Linked DNA regions of Homo sapiens: region 1 is linked to region 2. Evidence: fine-mapped expression QTL. A gene starts in region 2. The other region holds a variant in brackets. All regions are shown on one strand. Distances are from middle to middle. Region 1 overlaps DDX18 (DEAD-box helicase 18). Region 2 holds the start of CCDC93 (CCC complex scaffolding subunit CCDC93).

Evidence for each region. PIP is the estimated chance that this variant, and not a neighbour inherited with it, causes the effect.
Region 1: its variant is fine-mapped to the expression of CCDC93 in whole blood (TOPMed, PIP above 0.99).

The regions. Positions count from the first base shown.
Region 1 is chr2:117,815,021-117,826,329 of GRCh38, forward strand. It overlaps DDX18 (DEAD-box helicase 18), which reads left to right. Exons shown (of 14, transcript NM_006773.4): 2 at 2,424-2,708; 3 at 4,629-4,772; 4 at 6,141-6,276; 5 at 6,630-6,730; 6 at 6,842-7,041; 7 at 7,127-7,241; 8 at 9,549-9,688; 9 at 9,920-10,081; 10 at 10,427-10,579; 11 at 11,249-11,309. Among named protein-coding and RNA genes, the nearest start is that of DDX18, 6.0 kb to the left of the region's middle. RefSeq lists an enhancer at 1-528 and silencers at 5,564-5,613, 5,624-5,693. The variant A/G (reference allele first, on the strand shown) is at 6,489.
Region 2 is chr2:118,010,572-118,021,228 of GRCh38, forward strand. CCDC93 (CCC complex scaffolding subunit CCDC93) reads right to left here and starts at 3,499. Exons shown (of 24, transcript NM_019044.5): 1 at 3,383-3,499. The coding sequence starts at 3,424. It also overlaps the pseudogene RN7SL111P. RefSeq lists silencers at 2,987-3,036, 3,507-3,706.

The sequences.
Region 1 (11,309 bases), 200 kb before region 2:
GCTGCTGCCCACTCGTCGCGTGGCTCCAGCGCTGCTCCTGACCTTTCTGAGCAATCAGTGTCTTCTTACAACGTTAGAGCGGGAGGACTCCCCGTTCACTTCTAGGCTTACGACTAACCCTGCCTTTTGCATTTCCACCTTAGCTTTTGGTTCCCTCACCACCTGCAAGTCGCACCTCACCTCATCCCTCATTTCCGGTTATGCTGCATGAAACGTCTCATTTCCACCCACTTTTCACATCTATTTAATTCCCGTATTTCTTTCCCCAAAAGCCCGTCTGGCTGTTTCCACAGAGCTTCTTTGATACTATTGCCTTCCTCTACCCACTTCCACACGTTCTCGTAGCACTTTCTCACCAGAGCTTCTACGTATTTGTGTCCCGCACAGTGACCTAAATGAAAAGGATTTTATCTGAATGTCACCTTTCTTACCTACCTCATTTGCAGTCCCAGTGTCCTGACAGTGGGGCCACAGATCTTGAAGTAATTGTGTTAACCTGTTGTCCAGGTTAAGATACAAACTCCCCGAGGGAAAGTTTGGAGGCACAGTGCCTTGCCCCAGTTGGTTTTCAACAGACATTAATTGAAAAAAAATTCTGCAGGAGGCAATAGGTTTGTGAATTTTAGGAATATGTTTTGAAATACTCTTGTATTTCTAATTCCTATAGAATAATACTACAGCATTACTACTTTTCAGCGCATATGTAAGTAAATTTGAACAAAAGATGGTGTTTTATCTTTTTCAGTAAACAAACAGGGAACCTTTGGTAAGGACATTCTCAGGTACAGTCATGCATCGCATAACAGGAGGGGGGATACATTGTGAGAAATGTGTCATTAGGGGCTTTTGTCGTTTTGCGAACTTTATCTAGTTACACAAACCTAAATCTACTACACACCCAGGCTACATGATATAGCCTGTTGCTCGTAAGCTGTCATCCTGTACAGCATGTTACTGTACTATACTCAGAGAATTGTAACACAATGGTAAGTGTATGTATGGCTAAATATATCTAAACATAGAAAAGGTACAGTAAAAAGACTATGACATGAGAGATTTAGAAAATGGTACCTCTGTATACAGTACTTACCATGAATGGAGTTTGCAGGACTGGAAGTTACCCTGAGCGAGTCAGTGAGCGGTGAGTGAATGTGAAGGCCTAGAACATTACTGTACACTATAGACTTTATAAACACTGTACACTTGGGCTACACTGTTGAGTTTTTTAATACTTTTATTCTTAAATTAACCTTAGCCTGCTGTAACTTTTACATTATAAACTTGTTAAATTTTAACCTTTTGACTTTAATAACACTTAGCTTACAACACAAGCACATTGTACATACAGCTGTACAAAAAGTTTCCTTTTGTCCTTATTCTATGTGATTTTTATTTTATTTTTTTTTCTTTTTAAGCTTTTTGTTAAAAATGTAAAGACACAGACACATTCAGTTTCACTGTCTTCCGCTTCCACATCTTGTCCCACTGGAAGATCTTCAGGGGCAACAATAGGCATGGAGCTGTCATCTCCTATGATAACAGTGCCTTCTAAAATACCTCTCTCCCTGAGGCTCTTTTACAGTCGACTCATTTTTTTTTAATAAGTAAAAGGAGTAAACTCTAAAATGATGATCAAAAGTATAGTAAACACATAAACAAGTAACATAGTTTATTATCACGTATTATGTATTGTACATAATTATGTGTGCTGTACTTTATACGACTGGCATTACAGTAGATTTGTTTATACTAGCATCACTACAAACATGAGTAATATGTTGCACTACGACATTGCAGTTACTGATGGCACTAGGTGATAGGAATTTTTTAGCTCCGTTATAATCTTATGGAGCCACTGTATATGTTGTCCTTAATTCACAGAAATGTCATTGTGCACGCATTACTGTATTTGCATATGATAAATATTGGAGCAAATAAGTGGTCTTATCAACTGAATTTTCAACTCACTGCAGTCTAGAAGAGTTGGGGTTGAATGTTTTGAAGTGGTATGAAAAATAGTACTTGTGTGAATGAGTTGTAAATGTCTTTTTCAATATATCAGTTAATCATATGTTTATCAAATACTTATGTTTATTCTGTAACTGCCATTATCTGACCTCATCTGTTTAAATATTTGACCTCATTGAAGTTTTCCTGTCCTAGACTCCTTAAAGTCAGATGTACGGTCTTTTGCAGTTAAGAAATCAATATAGCTTTCCCTTTTCCAGTATTTTTTCTTTAAGATAACTTACTTTCCCTATAAGGGAACACCATAAAACTATAAGTTGTTTTAATTACATGAAAGAGAAGAAAATCTAAATAATTTGTGTCAGGAAGCCATGGAAGTTCTCATTTGGGATTTCAGTGTTTCTAAGTAAACTTCTCCTTCTTTGTCACAGTATATGTTCTGTTTATTTAAACAGGGGCCTCAAATCTGACCCTATCGGAAACTCAAAATGGAGATGTATCTGAAGAAACAATGGGAAGTAGAAAGGTTAAAAAATCAAAACAAAAGCCCATGAATGTGGGCTTATCAGAAACTCAAAATGGAGGCATGTCTCAAGAAGCAGTGGGAAATATAAAAGTTACAAAGTCTCCCCAGAAATCCACTGTATTAACCAATGGAGAAGCAGCAATGCAGTCTTCCAATTCAGAATCAAAAAAGAAAAAGAAGAAAAAGAGAAAAATGGTGAATGATGCTGAGCCTGGTAGGTATTTATTATCTTTGAACTTCAGCCATTTAGTTTTTCACAGACGGTTATTGTTCCTCTTTCTATTACTATTGTGTGCACATGACATGAGAATTCCCTGTACTCACCAGTATGTTAGAGATTAGCCTGGTAGCTAATGGAAACATTTTATTGGCAGAAGCGGGGAGTCCATTTCAACTTTTCTCAAAATATTGAGGAATATATTTTTAATTTCACTAACCTTGAAGAAAACCTCTCTCAGAAAAGACTCTCCTTAGAATTCTAGAAATTTTCTCTTCTTTTTAAGTTACCTTTTTTCCTGCTTGATTCTTCCCATTTTCCTTCCATAAATTCCTCCCTTTGAAAGGAATATTAGTTACAAAGTATATAAAGTAGGAAACTTCTGAATAAATGGAACATTAATTTCCAAGTGCTAAGAATGGCAGGAGGAAAAGGAAGGAATGTTTTTTGAAGATGATGGAATTTCAGTAAGCTCGGATGAAAGAATGGACATTATAATTGAGATTTGTATAAGCAGAGATATCAAGGTAGGATAAGATAGGGGTCAGCAAACTATCCCTCCTTCTACCTGTTTTTGTAAATAAAGTTTTACTGGGTCATAGCAATGCCTATTTGGTTGTGTTTATGGCAACAGAGATCATATGACCTGCAAAGCCTAAACTATTTACTATCTGGCCCTTTGCGGAAAGTTTGCCAGCCCCTGAGTTGGAACATCCTATTCATGTATTTTACCTGAAATAAGGGTTTTATTTAGAAAGGGACTTTGAACTTTTCCAAACATGCATTACTGTCTTCATGATGCCTACACACAGAAGTCATTGTAATCCTGTTCTAAAATTATTGCCTTCACAATTCTTGTTTTGAGTATGCCCCAGGAAGTGGTATTATTTCTGCTCCCAAGCATTGAATCACAATGCTGGGCGTTTTAACCTTATGGGTTTTTTGTTTGTTTGTTTGTTTGTTTGTTTTATTATGAGATGGGGTCTCACTGTGTTGTCCAAGCTGGTCTTGAACTCCTGGGCTCAAGTGATCCTCCCACCTCGGCTTCCCAAAGTGCTGGGATTACAGGCAGAAGCCACCACACCCAACCACCTTATGGGTACATTTTAGGAACTATTCCAGGGAAAACAAAATAAGCCATGGAGACCAGCTGAAGATATCTGTGGCTTTTGAACATGTAGGTCCTACAAAGTTGACTCTTTCCTGGAAGGGTGGCCGTCAGGTACAGGGAGGAGACCAGTACTGAGCTACAGAGAGTCCTGGGTTGTGGTCTAAGTTCTTTTCAAACATCACTAATTGCCATATAGTTTTATATAAACACAGCATGTGGTTAATCCATTTGACCCAGAGTCGAACATTGAAAAGAGAAGTGAGAGGTAGGACTGAAAAGGTAGTTGGGGCCACATGAAAGTTGTGAATGTAGAAATGAGGGTGGGAAGAAGCCCTGCCTTTCCTCCCACCCTCATCCCTGATAGCCAAGGCACAGTCCAGTGTATGTCAGCCAGGCAAGTGGGTTGTTGCCCTTCCTTTACAGTCTATCTCTAGTAACATGAAGAGCCTTTGATAGTGATTGGCGTGGGAAGAAAAATGACTACTTATAATGAGTTTTTAAGGATTATGTTAATCAGGTATGCTTCCTTTCCCCTCAGTGGAGTATGTGAAACTTATAATTGGTATGTTTATACTGTTTAGTTGAACAAAAGCCTAAAAGGTTTTGTCACCAAGTCTGTCTGTACCCTGGGTTTTTAAATACAACCACTCATTTTTCACCAAACAGAATTCTTAACAAATTAATACAGCATATACTTAGCTTTTGAAAATATACGTCTTTATATCAGAGATCTTCTGTTTGTTGATCTCATTTGGAATTCTATTTTAAGGAAAAATTTTTTCGGATTTTGTCTTTTAAAACCAAAGATACGAAAAAAGCAAAAACTGAAAACAAAGGGAAATCTGAAGAAGAAAGTGCCGAGACTACTAAAGAAACAGAAAATAATGTGGAGAAGCCAGATAATGATGAAGATGAGAGTGAGGTGCCCAGTCTGCCCCTGGGACTGACAGGTAACGTCCAGGAAGTTTTCTAGAGGTAACTTCTTTAAAATGTGCCTCTCTTAGAGGATTATAGGTTTGAAGGTTCAGTTGTGACTTTCAGTTTACCTGAAAAAAGTAACTATCAACAAGAAACTTTTTTTATATCTTTCTGCTGCTTTTTCTCTTTATCTTCTATTTTGTGGTGTTTTAGTTCTTTTTGTTCCCTGTTTTTTTCCTTTTGTTCATTCCTGACACCAAATATTTTATATGCACACTAGCAGCTTCTAGGATTCCTTGGTTTGTCCTTTTCTGAGTCTCATTCTATGTTGTAATAGGAAAATGATTGGCCCTGTACGAGGTTAACCTCCTTTGGCCTTTGTTCCTTTATAAAGTTGAGTTTAGGCTAGAATTCACTGCTCCTAACCAGATATGTCTAGGAGTTACTTGAGTTGTTTATTTGGTTTGGGTTGGTTGGTTTGTTAAAATGTTGAGGCCCAACCCTAGACCTGCTTAATCCAAATTGCAAACGTTTTGGTAGTAGCTCTCGAGCAGGGAAATTCGCCCCCCGAGTAAGAAGAGTAACTCTTCCTGGTTTGCCCAGAACTTTAACAGTTTTAGCACTGAAAGTTCTGAATCCCAAGAATCTCCTCTGTCCCTAGCCTACTGAGAAGATTGGTCATCCTAAGCCTAGGAGACATTTTTGGTTCTCAGAGCTAGGAGCAGTCTGCTGGGATCTGGTGAGTAGAGGTCAGAAACACTGCATAATATCTTATAAGGCACAGGATAGTGTTTCACAGCAAAGAATTATTCAGCCCAGATGTCAGCAATGCCAAGGTCAAGAGTGATTGGTTTACACCCTGGGCATGTGGAGTATGGGGAACCCCCAGGTGATTTTGATGCCTTCTGCTGAACCACCACTGTATTACTTGATACGTAGGCTCAGCCTAACATTCTGTGGCTGTATCTGACTCTTCTGTGTCTTGTTGGAGTGAGATTAACAGGTTTTTTTTTTATTATTGACTTCACACTCAGTTTTTATTAATGCTCAATGTTTTCACTTTTATATCAGATTTCTTAAACATTTCATTTATCTCTGGACTCTCATTATTTTCCTTGTTTTGGTATTTTTATTTTATATAAATTCCTTGGTTATACCTCCTCTCTACCCCTTGTTTTGTTATAGTATGGTCTCTGGACTATAACTCACACAGCCGTTAACAGTGGAGAAACTTGAAAGATATAGGGTCTTTTTCTTGATATTATCACATATGAATAATTAAGGTTTAGCCTTTTCTTACTGCGGGAAGCTTTTCTAAGCAAAATAGATTTAGGCAACTGTAGCAATACTTTTTTAAAAAAAAAGATAAATTTGCTAATGATAAATTGTCTTCTGTTTAGGAGCTTTTGAGGATACTTCGTTTGCTTCTCTATGTAATCTTGTCAATGAAAACACTCTGAAGGCAATAAAAGAAATGGGTTTTACAAACATGACTGAAATTCAGCATAAAAGTATCAGACCACTTCTGGAAGGCAGGTATGATTAACATTGAAGCTTAGATATTGGCATCTATTTTTAGAACTAGTAGATGATAAAGAACATACCAGTATATTCTGTTGATTTTGTACTATATGTTGGGTCATGTATCCAGCATACATTAAAGGCTTTAAGTTAATTACTGATGTTTGAAGGAAAGTGTTCGAAAGGTGTTCTGCTTCTGTTGTAGCACAGTTCTGACTTATGATTTC[A/G]GTATATAACCCAGGTGATCAATTTCAGCACTGTAGACGTTTCTTGTTCATGTTCTAGCCGTAGTGCCTAAGGTGTGTGTATGTAGTACGTCGTAAATGAGTAGGCTAAATGTCTTTCTCCTTTCCCTTTTTAATATTTAGGGATCTTCTAGCAGCTGCAAAAACAGGCAGTGGTAAAACCCTGGCTTTTCTCATCCCTGCAGTTGAACTCATTGTTAAGTTAAGGTTCATGCCCAGGAATGGTAAGCGTTCATCTGCTTGTTTCTGCCATTATTTCACTAGAGGTTTATTGTAGCTGTTACGGACTCAGTGGTGACAGCCACATTTAGACTTCTACCATATATCATTTTTAGGAACAGGAGTCCTTATTCTCTCACCTACTAGAGAACTAGCCATGCAAACCTTTGGTGTTCTTAAGGAGCTGATGACTCACCACGTGCATACCTATGGCTTGATAATGGGTGGCAGTAACAGATCTGCTGAAGCACAGAAACTTGGTAATGGGATCAACATCATTGTGGCCACACCAGGCCGTCTGCTGGACCATATGCAGGTAAGAGATGTAGTGCTTGTCTCATTGTCTTGTATGAAACATAAACTGACAACTAATGGTTGTTCTTTGTCCTTTGTTTTGTTAGAATACCCCAGGATTTATGTATAAAAACCTGCAGTGTCTGGTTATTGATGAAGCTGATCGTATCTTGGATGTGGGGTTTGAAGAGGAATTAAAGCAAATTATTAAACTTTTGCCAAGTAAGTAGGTAGCATCTGCATTTGGTTTGCAAAGTATCTGTTGGAGGTAGATAAGAGTTGTTCCTATAGAAAAACTGTACTAATGCCAGAACTTTACCATAGCCAAGTGAGGTAGTTGTGCCAATTAACCCGAAAGGTAATTTGGAATACAAGCATCAAATGTATTATAACTTGATATAATAGTTTTGCTGTTTTAGAAGTTATAAGGCACGTTAAGCAGTCTTCACATAGGTCCTGTCCTCCACCTCTTGCCCATTCTTACCTCATCTAACATCCCCCAAGAAGCCGCAGATTTTTTGCCTTACTTGTACATACCTTGGTTATAGTACTTGCAACATTATGAACTGGTTATAACTAAGACCATGGTTTCCTTCATTATATAATTTATTTTTAAAAGCTTTGTCAAAGTATAATTATATCTACCCATTTATAATGTACAATTTGATGTTCTTTGATTTGTTTACCACTGTGACATCATCGCTGCAATCAAGAAAATGAACATGTCCATCACAGTCAAAGGTTTCCTCCTGCCCCTTTTCAATTTCTCCCTCCCACCCCTCCTTACACGTATACCTTGTCCCCAGGTGAGTATTGATCTGTTTTCTGCTGCTAGATTAGGTTGCATTTTCTGGAAATAAAGTTGCTGTGAACAGTCATCTACAACTCTTTGTAGAGGCATATATCTCCTTTTCTCTTAAGTAAACCTAGGAGTGTCCTAGTTGGTATATGTTTAGTGTATGTTTAACTTTTTAAAAAACTGCCAGATGTTTTCCAAAGCGGCTGTACCATTTAACATTCCTATGAGCAGTGTATGAAAGTTCCAGTTCCTCCTATTAAGTCTTGACCATCAGGTAATGTTAGCCCCAAGTTTGTTCTCTTTTAAAGTTGTGGTATTCTTGTCCTTTGCTTTTCTATATAAATTTTAGAATTGGTTTGTCAGTTTCTCCCCCTTCCCTCCAAAAAAGTCTCAGATCTTGACTGAGATTTTATTGAATAGAGATTATTGGAGGAAGACAGTATTGAGTCATGTAACCCATAATAAGGTATATCTCCATGTATTCGATATTTTCTCTATCATATTTAGGGGGGTTCGGGATACAGGTTTATTCACATCTTTTGTCAGATTTATCTCTGAGTGTTTCATTAAAATTTCAAGTTCCAATTGCTCGTTGCTTTAATATATACATATATACACACACACATATACACACATATATATGCACACACAGTTGAATTTTATATTGATCTTGTATCTAGCAAGACAGTTAATCCTGTACCGAATGATTATTCAGTATGACTTTCCAGATGACTGTAGCCTTTTGGATTTTCTATATAGGCAATCATGTGCAGATAAAGACAGTTTCACCTCTTTATTTAATTTTTTTTTCCTGCCTGATTGCCCTGGCCAGAACCTCCAGTATGGTGCTGAATAGAAGTGGTGAGAGCAGACATCCTTATCTTGGTTCTGATCTTAGGGGAAAGCATTCAGTCTTTTACCATTAACTACATATGAAGTTAGCTGCAGGTTTTATATAGATGCCTTTTATCAGATTGAGGAAGATCCCTTCTGTTCCTAGTTTGCTGAGGATTTTTAATCAGAAATAGATGGTCAAATGTTTTTTTTCTGTCTGCTGAAATAATCATGTTTTTTCTTTAGTTAACATAGTGAATTGTATTGGTTGATTTTTCAAATGTTGAACCAACCTGCATTTCTAGAATAAACCTGATCCATTTCTAGAATAAACATGAGCCATTATCCTTTTTATATATTGCTGAATTCACTTTACTAAAATTCTATTTCAAATTTTGTATATGTGCTCACGAATTGTATTGGTCCATAGTTTTCTTGTCATGTCATGTCAGGTTTTTGTATAGTGTAATGACTGACTTCGAAGAATGAGTTGACATGTAAGCCCTCTTTTTAATTTATTGGAGAGTTTGTGAATAATTGATGTTTTTTTCTTAAATGTTCAGTAGAATTCACCAATGGAATCCATTTGGGCCTGGAATTTTCTTTACATGAAGGTTATAACTAAAATTTCTTTAGTAGATATAAGGCTATTTAAAGTTTTCCTATTTTCTTCAGTTGTTTGTCTTCAAAGGAGTTTGTCCATTTCATCTAAGTCCTCAAATTTATAGACCTAGTGTTTCATGATATACCCTTTTTACCTTTTGTAATATTTGTAGATTCTGTAGAAACATCATATCTCCCATTTCTGATATCTCTACCTAGAATATTTGTAGTTGTGAGGCAATTGTAAAGATTCCCTAAAAGATTGGGGTTATTTTTATATGTATCTGTTTCAGCACGTAGACAGACTATGCTCTTTTCTGCCACCCAAACTCGAAAAGTTGAAGACCTGGCAAGGATTTCTCTGAAAAAGGAGCCATTGTATGTTGGCGTTGATGATGATAAAGCGAATGCAACAGTGGATGGTCTTGAACAGGTACTTTTTATCAATAACTGAAAACTGTAGGGATCTTACTTGGTGTTTTTATGTAATTGTTGGAAGGATCATTCAGAAAGCAAATGGGTTAATGAACTTTTAAAATGCTGTAGGTGAGGCATGACAGTTTACACACTGTGTTTATCAGTGCTCTTGATGAAATTACACAAGTTAGGAAATGGAAAATGTCCACTTGGTTCATTTGTATCTGTCTGCTTAAACGCTTTCTAGGGATATGTTGTTTGTCCTTCTGAAAAGAGATTCCTTCTGCTCTTTACATTCCTTAAGAAGAACCGAAAGAAGAAGCTTATGGTCTTCTTTTCATCTTGTATGTCTGTGAAATACCACTATGAGTTGCTGAACTACATTGATTTGCCCGTCTTGGCCATTCATGTAAGTGATGATGATGAGCTCATTGAAAACAGGGTATGCTTATTAAATCCTATAGATTGTAGGATTGGAGGTATTGCCCTCTCCTGGAAACATTGTTCTGAGTAGTTTGATCACCACTAGATGATGGATCCTGTGTGGGGGAGCGCTGCTGGGTGTGGAGGGGTATGAGGACTTTCGAAGAGTGCAAGACACCATCCTCCTTGAGGGGCTTGCGGAACAGTTGGGGAAATAGGACATAGGCCAAGGGATGAGCTCGAAATAGGGTAACAGTTCCACAATTTGGGGGTTCTACTGCTAGTCTTCCTCAAGATTCCAGCTCTAATGGATGTTTTTATTTAATTCTAGGGAAAGCAAAAGCAAAATAAGCGTACAACCACATTCTTCCAGTTCTGCAATGCAGATTCGGGAACACTATTGTGTACGGATGTGGCAGCGAGAGGACTAGACATTCCTGAAGTCGACTGGATTGTTCAGTATGACCCTCCGGATGACCCTAAGGTAACTGGCATCTTTGGAATATCTTCAGAATGACTCTGCATTAAAAGTTCACTTATTCTCCCAGTTCCCTGACGGAAACTGCATTCCACATTCAAGGTAAAGATCCCTACTATACAGTGACTGCAGTATTTCTCTGGTATTGAAAAGTACTTAAGGCTTTTCAGGGCTCAAACGGGCTGTGCCAGAGGATTGAAAAGGATCAGTGGGACTTAAGTTATGAAAATGAGATCCTTGGAATGATCTCTTAAGAACAGCAGATGCCTGAAGGAAATAAAATTGCTTAAGGAAGTAGATAAACTTCTGTAGTATATGTGGTAGAATAAGCTTCATTGAGAAGTATTTTCAACAAACACTGGATTAAAGCCGTTTTGATGATGAAGCACACATAATACTCATTTTATTAGATCGCTGTTAATGCAAACATCATGTCCAGCCTTTTTTTTTTTTTTTTTTTTTTTTTTTTGGGCCTCAATCATTGGCCTATTGGGGGTGATGTGCACAGAGCGATTGCTGGCCCAGCTTTGTGGGGGTGTGGTGAAGGTGTGTGTGGCCCAGCACCGTGGGACTACACCATCTCAGTACAGACATGCACATACTCAGGATGCAGATACGCAAATGGGCTCATGTGGAAGTCACTGCGTTAACTCAGATTTTCTTTCTCCACCAAAGGAATATATTCATCGTGTGGGTAGAACAGCCAGAGGCCTAAATGGGAGAGGGCATGCCTTGC
Region 2 (10,657 bases):
TTGCAAATGCTTCTTCATCTTTCTTCCTTTAATTTGTTTTGCTCATCCCTTCCTAAATCACAGCTTTCATGTTATCCCTCTTTAGCTCACCCTCCCAGCCCTTATCAACAATGCACCACACACACTGCCTGTAAGATAAACTCCAGATGTCTGGTTTCACATTCAGATCTTTGGCCACCAAACTATCTTTTCAGGTTCATCCTTTAACTACCCCAAAAACAATCAAGACAAGGCCATGGCTATATTCTCTAACCACTGAGAAATCACTTTCAAATTCCAGCTCCCATGCAACACCATCCCTCACAAGTCTATCCTGAAATGGCCACTCTCCTCAGCATTTCTGTACATATAACTAAGTATCAACTATATACTGTACATATAACTAAGTATCAACCTCTTCAAAGTGAGATATCTAGTGTTATACACATGCTTGTCTTTGCAACTGGACTACTGATTGATTAACGAGAGGACTATATATTATATACTTGGGTTTACTCCTCTGAATCCAAACAACATTAAGCTCCAAGGACACACTTATTAAATAAAGAATGATCTACTAATGCTTACATAAAGTAAGTGAACCTAAACCAGTCATGTATTAATAAAATGTTTCAGTGATCACATCCCTGACAATGGAAAGTTTATTTTGATGTATAAACTGCCAGGAAAGGGAGTATACATATTAAAATATAGTTAATACAGAATTATTAAAGTGACTGATAATCCCCTGCAATAGAGTAGGAGTGGCGTGGGGGAGGTGACAGCACTGAGCTACATCCGTCTCTGAAATGACCCTGGTCCAGTCCATTAAGGATCCTGAAGATCAGCATTCACTAGTTCCTAGTGGACATAAAAATTTTCTTAAGTAATATAAATAATTCACACCTTCTCTCCCTTCTGCAAAAAATCTGGGATGGTTGAGAAACGTCTACAAGTGAAAACACTCTAAGAAAAGAGAAGCTAAAGAGTAGTTGTAGTTCAAGTCAGCAGAAAAAGAAAATGAGATAATATAAGTACTTTCTTAAAACTTCTGGGGTGTAAAACAGGAACACTTCATTTGTTCAATCATTTATTATGAAAACATGAGAAGAAGACAAAAAAAACCAAAAAAAAATAGGATCATCACTGCCTCAACACCTATCTAATGGACACCCACTGGCCACCCCACCACAGATGCAGGGCCCAGGCTTCCATCCACTCACCCCTAGCATGGAGAAGTTTACTTTTGCAATATAACTTGTGAAGTAATTTTGGCACAAGACACTAAATGGGAATGTATGACTCCAAATTCACTTAGCAGATTAACACTGAAATCAAATGGAAAAGGGCCACTGTCTGATCTGCTGGGAATGAAAGACCCTCTCTTGAAGCAATAAAAATCCACCAGGCTGGTTAATACATCCAGTTGTTGAAGCTAAATTTCTGACAAAGACAAACAACAATGAGCTCTTACACAAAGCCCAATAAACTTTCAATTTCCGTCCACTATAGTTGTTGTAAGCTGGAAGGCAGGCCAAGTCTAGCTATCTTTGTAAAGGGTTAAAAAGAATGAATTCGGGCAGGGCAGTGGCTCACATCTGCAATCCCAGCTACTGGGAAGCCTGAGGCATAAGAATTGCTTGAACCTGGGAGGCAGAGGTTGCAATGAACCGAGCTCACGCCATTGCACTCCAGCCTCGGTGACAGAGTGAGACTCTGTCTCAAAAAAAAAAAAAAGAATGAATTTAATGAATTAACTGGTCTAGTGACATCCTAATAACACAGACTATCCATATTTATATTTACTAGCTTCTGAACTAAATGATGATAAGTTATTGCTTGACCTGGTGAGTGTGGCCTCTTAGCAGTCAGTGAAAGTTTAAACGAAGGACATACAGCAGCAGGTTGCTCTTCATTAATTAATTTATTTATTTTCCCCCCAGAAAGACCTCCACTGATAGTACTGTGGAATATTGGGTTGGACGGATTTAAAGTAGAACGTGGGAGACCAGACAGAAGTCTACAGCAAAAGGCCAGGCAAAAACTTGATGAGAGCCTAGAATACAGAAGTGGCAAAAAAGAAAACTTCAAATGTCACAGTACAAATCCTATTGTTCACTATCCTGGGTCCCATCCCAGGCAACGTGCATGTAAGATTTTACCTAATACAGGGGTTCTGACAACATTATGCTTGTCAGGTTTTCTTAAGACAACAAAATGGACTTGCATTCGGGGAGCACACACTGACAAACAAATCTGTCCTTTCAGACTATATATATTCCCAGCTTCTGGACACAGAACACAGTGATCCCTCAATTAGTGGATACTTGTGATATGAAAGAACTGAGGATTTGGGAGGAATGCAGAGGAGTAACATTGGTCACTGGCAGGTAAGTGTGAAGGGACGACTCACCACGTCAAGCAAGCAGTCACCCTGCCCAATGCCTGCTCCAGAACCTTAGGAAAAAGGCAGAGGTGCGGCGTGGCTTCCATTTCTCTCCAGAATCCAGTAAACTAGACTAGCCTTTGAGTAAAATCAACTGAAAGGGACGACAGATGCAAACTACCTATGAGATGCTAAGTGGTATTTGCAGCCAAAAGAAAATGAATACACTTTCCCTGTATTCCCAGCAAACGTGGAAATCCGCAAACCACTCATGACCCCCTCCCTAGCACTAAGTGAGTACTTAACAAACACCTTTGGAAAAGAACCCCGCCCTCTTCTGGAGAAGCCGCAGCCTTTCCGCCCAGAGCCGGGTCCCCCGCCACACAGCACCCCTGGAGTGCGTCCCACCCCGAACGCCCCGGCGCGCTGACCCAGCGGGACACCTCCCTGGTGCGCGCAAGTCTCCCAAACTTCCTCCCGCCGCCCCGGCCCGGGTCCACGCAAGGAGGGTGGCATTCCCTCCCGACAGCAAGGCGGGTGGGGCGGGCCGCCGGGACTCTGCGGGGTGGCGGTAGACGTCCCAAGGTCACCACCCGAGCCCGAACCGCCTCGGAGAGCGGTCTCGTGACTCCAGCGCCCAGCAGCCTCGGCCCTCGGGGCTAGCCCTGCGGCGCGGGGTGGGGGAGCCCGTCCCGGACAGGGAGAAAGGTGGGAGCCCAGGACCCCGCGGCGCGTGGGGCTGCGTCAGAGCAGGTGTCGGGCTAGGAAGGCCACCTGCGCCCCAAGAGACCCGGGAGCGGCTTAAGTTTGTCCTCACCCGCCCGCCGCCCCCTGCCCATGCAGGGGTACCTGCTCCCCGCCTCCAAGAAGAGGGTCGGCGCTTCCCTGAGGTGGATACGCCTGAGGAAGGGGGCGGGGCGCCCCTAACGCACCCAGGGCCCGCTCAGCCCGCCGCCCCGCGGCTCGGCCCTCTCTTCAGGAACCCCGACGTGTCAGGGAAGGAGGAGGCGTTCTTACCTCCGGGAGACCCTGGCCCTCCGGCCCCCTGGGCAACCCCATGATCCGACCGGGCTGTCGTAAGGCGAGAGCGAAGCCCGCCAAGCGTCCGGAGGAAGCTGTCCCTGCCGCGGAGCTGCTACCGGGGTGGAGTACAAAGCGGAAACTCCCTCTGCCGCCGCCGCCGCCGCCGCCGCCGCCTGCCCGAAGCGCCGCAGCCGGGCAGAGCATGCGCGCTGGGGCCGGAGCGCGGCGCCACTGCGCCTGCGCCACAGCAGCCCGGGGAGAGGTGGGCTGGGCTGCAGGTCCTGGCGTTGTGCTGGATCATCGCGCCCGTACTCTGAAGTTTTCTCCGTGGCGCTCTTTGAGAGGGGTTCCTCCTGCATCTTGAGAATATTTTGCATTTCGGCTCCCTTCTCTTCTCGCTGCCATCGGATGCCCCAAATAGGTCCTGTCCCCTCGGTGAATCAGACTTCGGAAACCGCCTCGCTTCAGGGTCAGAGTCCAAGTACAGATGAGCTTGAGGATTCTGAATGCACGCCCGGCTCTAGACCTTACAGACACACGCTTGGACAGACTTCTCCATATACGACCCAGGAACGGACCCCTTGAGAAGGGATTCTTCAAGCCCGCTGCCCTCTCCAGCGTCCTGGCCAGTGGCATCGCGTTCCCAGGAAACCTCGCTTCAGATATTGCCCACCACCCCGCCCTATTCACGGTTCCTGGGTCTTCCTGGAGGAATGACATCTCAGAGAATGCGGACTCCTATGTTCATGTCATTTGAGCCGCCGCGTCCCTTATTTGATGTACCCCTTGTTGGTCCCGGAGGATGGCAACTAGACAAAAGGTCACAGGCCCCCACACCCGCTCCATAACGGCTTCTTGGCTTTTTGTTTCTTTTAAGCAATGAGGAAAGAGATGACTTTCGTGAAAACTTTTGCTGGAGAAGAGATCCTTCCCTCTGTATATGTGTGTGGGATGGGAAGTGTCAGACTCAGACCTTTAGTTCCTTGAGATCAAAAAGGTTTCGTGTTTGCTTTCGTCTCTTCTTTGCATCCCTAGCGTCTTTAAAAGAGTAGGCAGGCGCGGTGGCACATGCCTGTAATCCCAGCACTTTGGGGGTCGAGGCGGGAGTATCACTTGAACCTAGGAGTTGGAGACCAACCTGGGCAACATAGTGAGACCTCCATCTCTACAAAAAATAAGAAAATTAGCCCGGTGCCAGTGGTCCCAGCTAGCCGGTAGGCTGAGGTGGGAGAATTGCTTGAGCCAGGAAGGTTGAGGTTGCAGTGAGCTATGATAACACCACTGCACTCCTGCTTGGGTGACAGAGCAAGACCCTGTCTAAAAACTATATATATATACGTGTATATATATATATGTGTGTATATATATATACGTGTATATATGTGTGTATATATATACGTGTATATATATATGATGTTTTCTATTTTATTTTATTTTTGCACCTTTTGTACTCCTCCTGGAGTTCATCCTGACAGACAGAGGTTTGTCTGGAGCCAGAGCTCACAAATAGTTGGAACTGCCCTAAGGATGCCATTTTGTTCTTAAATATAACTAGCAAATATTACTCAAAGCTGTGCACGATCCCCAAACCCTGGTCCCCAATAATTTGAATAATCTGAATATGCAAGTTAAGGTATTGAGATGGGAACCCTCCTGTGTGGTATATCTTGCTCTTATCCTTTGTGAAGCCAATAAACTTCAATTTCTACTCTCATAACTTCCCAAATGTGTTGTTTTTGTAGTTTTAAAACTGTCATTCACTGAAATGGTATAGGTTGATGGGGAATGGAGAGTGATAATAATTTGTGGCCACTGTTGAGTGACCAGACAGGTACTGATGCCTAGGAACAGGTAGTAAGATCTCACATAGCAGGCAAGCCTAAACAGCTGTATATAATAGCAGCCTGGAGAATAACAGGACTCAGGCCACACCCTGAGTTCCCTGTTATAATGCTTTTGCAATGTTTTAAATAAGCATGAGTAGCTAACTTCCTCAGTAAGAAACTGTCCTTCCCGAGCGCGGTGGCTCATGTCTGTAATCCCAGCACTTTGAGAGGCCGAGGCGGGTGGATCACCTGAGATTGGGAGTTCGAGACCAGCCTGACCAACATGGAGAAATGCCGTCTCTACTAAAAATACAAAATTAGCCGGGCGTGGCAGCGCATGCCTGTAATCCCAGCTACTTGGTAGGCTGAGGCAGGAGAATCACTTGAACTGGGAAGGCGGAGGTTGCGGTGAGCTGAGATTGTGCCACTGCACTCCAGCCTGGGCAACAAGAGTGAAACTCTGTCTAAAAAAAAAAAAAGAAACTGTCCTATGTTACAACAGGTGTAGAGTGACAGTAACAGAGTTGAGGGGCATGGGGCATGCTTAAAAAAAAAAATCTCAGCAAAACAGCCATAATATCGTCAAGAAAGTTTGAACAGGGCTAGGTGGCACCTGCTTATGTCCCAGCAACTCGGGAGGCTGAGGCAGGAAAATCGCTTGAGCCCAGGAGTTCTGGGCTTTAGTAAGCTATGCCAATCAGAGATCTGCACTAAGTTTGGTATCAATACAGTGACCTCCAGGGAGCAAGGTTGCCTAAGGAGTGGTGAACTGGCCCAGGTCAGAAACAGAGCAGGTTAAAACTTCTGTGCTGATCAGTAGTGGGATCATGACCATGAATAGCCACTGCACTTAAGCCTGGGCAATATAGCAAGACACTGTCTCTTAAAAAAGAAAAAGAAAGTTTAAGCAGCCCATATTTGAGAGCAGAAACCCTTCACAGTCTTGAAGAAGACCTTTAACAGCCAATGCAGACAAGGAGGCTTGTGAGGAATCTCTCAGATCAATCCATCTCTCTCCCTTTCCCTTCACTCCAGGCACCCTCACAAATTGTGTCTCCCAAGTGTGATATCTGAGGACTAGAAATCAGTCATTCTGTCTCTCTTCTGTACACTGAGTACAGAGTTGTGTGATGTTCCTCTTTGGAGCCTCACAAATACTTTCCAGTTCGTGGGTAAAGAGGTACCATAGTGATATAGTTTGGATATTTGTCCCACCCAGATCTCATGTCAAAATGTAATAGCCAGTGTTGGAGGTGGGGCCTGGTGGGAGGTGATTGGCTCGTTGGGGTGGATTTTTTGTGAATGGTTTAGCAACATCCTCTTGGTGCTGTCTTCCTGACACTGAGTCACTCATCACGAGATCTGGCTGTTTAAAAGTGTGGCACTTATCCTCTCTAGCTCTTGCTTTCACCATGTGACATGCCTGCTCTCCTTTCACCTTCCACCATGATTGTAATCTTCCTAAAGCCTCCCCAGAAGCCAAGCAGATGCCGGCGCCATGCTTTCTGTAAAGCCTGTAGAACTGTGAGTTAATTAAACCTCTTCTTTATAAATTACCCAGTCTCAGGTATTTCTTTATAGCAATGGGAGAATGGCCTAATACACATAGTAAAGAGCTTCCTGTTAGGCTTAGCTTTGTTCTGGAGGAAGTTTTCTTTCTTTTTTTTCTTTTTTTTTTTTTTTGAGACGGAGTCTCGCTCTGTCACCCAGGCTGGAGTGCAGTGGTGCGATCTCGGCTCACTGCAAGCTCCGCCTCCCGGGTTCACGCCATTCTCCTGCCTCAGCCTCCCGAGTAGCTGGGACTACAGGCGCCCGCCACCACGCCCGGCTAATTTTTTGTATTTCTACTAGAGGCGGGGTTTCACTGTGTTAGCCAGGATGGTCTCGATCTCCTGACCTCGTGATCCGCCCACCTCGGCCTTCCAAAGTGCTAGGATTCCAGGCGTGAGCCACCGCTCCCAGCCGGAAGTTTTCTATAAAGCTTTAATTATTCTGTCTTCAGGCTTCTCTCATTCCTTCTACATGTAGTGCAACAATGGGTGTTCAGTAAAGTAGAGTGACACAGCGAGGTCACACAGCACATTAGAGGGAGTGCTAGAACCAGAGCCCCAAATTTCTCATTCCCCATGTTCTTTTGCTCACCCATCCAACCATCCATCCATCCATCCATCCATCCAACAAATATTGCTGAGTTTCTTCTATGTCAGTAGCTCTCAAACTTGGCTGCACATTGGAATCACCTGGATTCCACCCTTAGCAATCCTGATTTAATTGGGCTAGGGAGAGGCATGAATATTGAATTTTTTGCCTTGGAACATATTGTTTTATATACAACACAGTAGTGAATAGTGACTTCATTATGGATTTGTTTCTTTATAGATCACAGTGGCATATAAAATTCAAAATCCATAAACAAAGAGCTCTTAGGTTAAATGAGTTCTTCCTAAAAATTCTTAATGGCATGCTGGTCTATTCTCAAGCGGTACAATTTTATAATGCACCATCCTATATTTAGCATGTCACATTTCTACAGTAACATAATGGAGGCACAGGCAGTGCAAGCAGATTTAAACCCCTTCTACTTCTGGACTGAAGGTTAGAAAAACACAGCGTGTACACACACACACTTGGATGAGTTCTTCCAATACGTTTTCCCCCAAAAATGATAGTTTTATCAAAGAATTTCAATAACTTTCATAGTTTGTACAACCACACTCTATTAGCTACATTAAAAAGGATTCAACAAGGGGCCAACTACACAGTAGTAAATAAACATGTTTGAGAATATCTGCTACATTCTCTATCTCCTGGAGAAAATAATATTTACATTTTTTTGTAAAGTGATTTAATAACTAAACAATTCTTTCTTTTGGTCGGGGGTAGGTAATGGGATTTTCAAAGCTTCACAGGTGATTCCAATAAGCAGTCAATTTGAGAAGAGTTTCTCTGTGCCAGAAACTGTTCCTGATGCTGCAGATACTGCAGTCAACACACCAAACAAGATAATTACTGACAGAAATTAAACATGTAATTAATAAGATAATATCAGGTAGAAATAGGTGCTATTAAAGGGGGGAAAAACAGTGTAGTTTGGGTGTGGTGGCTCACACCTGTAATCCCAGCACTTTGGGAGGCTGAGGCAGGCAGATTGCTTGAGCCCAGGAGTTCAAGACCAGCCTGGGAAACATGGCAAAAACCTGTCTCTACAATTAACAACAACAACAACAAAAAAAACAAAAACCAAAAAACAAGCAATGACAACTACAACAACAACAATTAAAAAAAACCAGTGTAATGCAATAAAGAATAGCTAGAGTCAGAGTCACTTTTAGATGAAGGGGCCAGGATTAGGCTTTGCAGTGCCATTTGAGAGAGACCTAAATCCCAAAAGGACACCATAGAAGGGCCTCAGGGGAAAGCATTGCTGGCAGAAGGAGCATCTGAGGTGTTCTGGACAGTTTCCCATTACCCTTCCAGTCCTGCTCTCAGTCCTCTCCTTGTTTGTTTCAGCACAAGGCTGACCAGTAAGGACTTCAGCAGCAGGGCCTGGGGTATGAGGATCTGGGATGTGGGTCTTGGGATGAAGGGGTGTCTGGGATGTGAGTCCTGGGGTTTGGGGGAACTGAGTTATAGGGACTAGGAAGTAAGATTTCAATAGTAATTTGACAAAATATATTAAGAACTTAAAAATTTTCTTTGATATGATACTTCCACTTTCAGGGCTTATATCAGATCTTCATCACAATGTTACTGATGAGAAAAAAAACCTATAAACCATCTAAATAGCCCATAATAAGGGACTGGTTAGGTACATTATAGTCTGTCCATTTGATATAGTGAAAATGTGTGCTTCAGCAGGCCATGAACAAAAACAGTGAGAGATGAGGCTGTATAAATGTTAACAATGTCTGCCTGCCAAAAAATTATTACAACATTTAAAAGGCAAACTGGAAAAATATTTGTTACCTGTGACAAGAATTCTTCCAAATGAGGAAGAAACATTTAACAGAAAAATGAGCATAAGACTTGAATAGAGAATTTCTAAAAGAAATTGTCACTAAATGTCTGAAAAAAAAAAAAAAACTCAGCCTTATTCTAAAAGGTTAAAATGTGGTATCTTTTTGCATGGAAAAAATAATTAATGCTTAAAAGACACTAAACAAATGCCAGTAGCATTCCCTAGTCAGTAAGGTTTTACAACAGTTCTTGGACGGCAGTTTGGCAAAGTTAATTTTTCACCAAATATTCATTCTGTGCCTCTTCTGTGCCAGGTACAGAGAAGGGCTCTCAATGTGGGTGAGGGTAGAGATTCAGGACCAAGGAGCAGTCTGGAGTTTTCACAGAGCATGGGAGATTGTCTTAGTCTTTTTAGGCTGCTATAACAAAATACTATAGAGTGGCTTATAAACTACAAAAATTTTATTTTCCTCACTTCTGGAGGCTGGGAAGTCCAAGGTCAAGGCATCGCCAAATATAATGTCTGGCGAGGTCCCATTTCTTATGGATGTACAGCTTCTCATTGTCACCTTACACGGTAGAAGGGTGAGGAGCCTCTGTAAGGCCTCTTTTATAAGAGCACAATCCTATTCATTATGGTAGAGCCCTAATCACCTCCCATCTTCTAATACTATCACCTTGTGGGAGTCAGGATTTCAACATATAGATTTTGGGGTAACCCAAACATTCCCACCACAGCAGAGGCATTACCAACATTTAGCACCCAGTTGTTAAAGACATCAAACTTCCTGCATTGATTTTAGGTCATAAAAATTTCTTTGACCAGAGAAATGTAAGCAGATAGGAGATTGTGCCAGTTCTGGGTGAGGTGTCAAGAACCATTCTGTGTTCCCTCACTCTCCTAAGCTCAAGCCATTCACCAGGAGACCGCATACTCAGGCAACCATACCTCCCTCCACCTGGGCCCTCAAGCAAGAAACACCAGTGAGAGACCAGAGCAGACCTGAGCCCCAAGCCCAGCCGAGTACCAAGCCCACGAGTGAGATATCAGTGTTGGTTGTGACCAATGAGGTTTGGGGGTTATTTGTTAAGCATCATTATCATGCATAACCTTATAAACTGTACAAAGAATTGTTCCCCCAGATGCCATAAGCATGCCCAACCCTCTGTCTGAAAAATGCTGGATACAGAAAAGAAAGAGAACAGAGCTCTGGGATGAGCATGCACAGTCAACCAATCATCACAGCACAGATGACATGACGCATGTTGAAATAAGTGCCTTTAATAATGAGTTGAAAAGTGGGATGAAAAAGAGGAACAGGAGTAACAGTTTTGAGTGGGAAGTTAATGAAAGTTTCTCCAGGGATACAACATGTAAGACTTGAGATGAAAGAGGGTTAGACCTGGAGCGGGATAAAGGTTTCCAACAGAGAGGGGGCCATGAATAGGGAGGAGCTTGCACCTGAGGGGTTGGAGCAGGAGCACT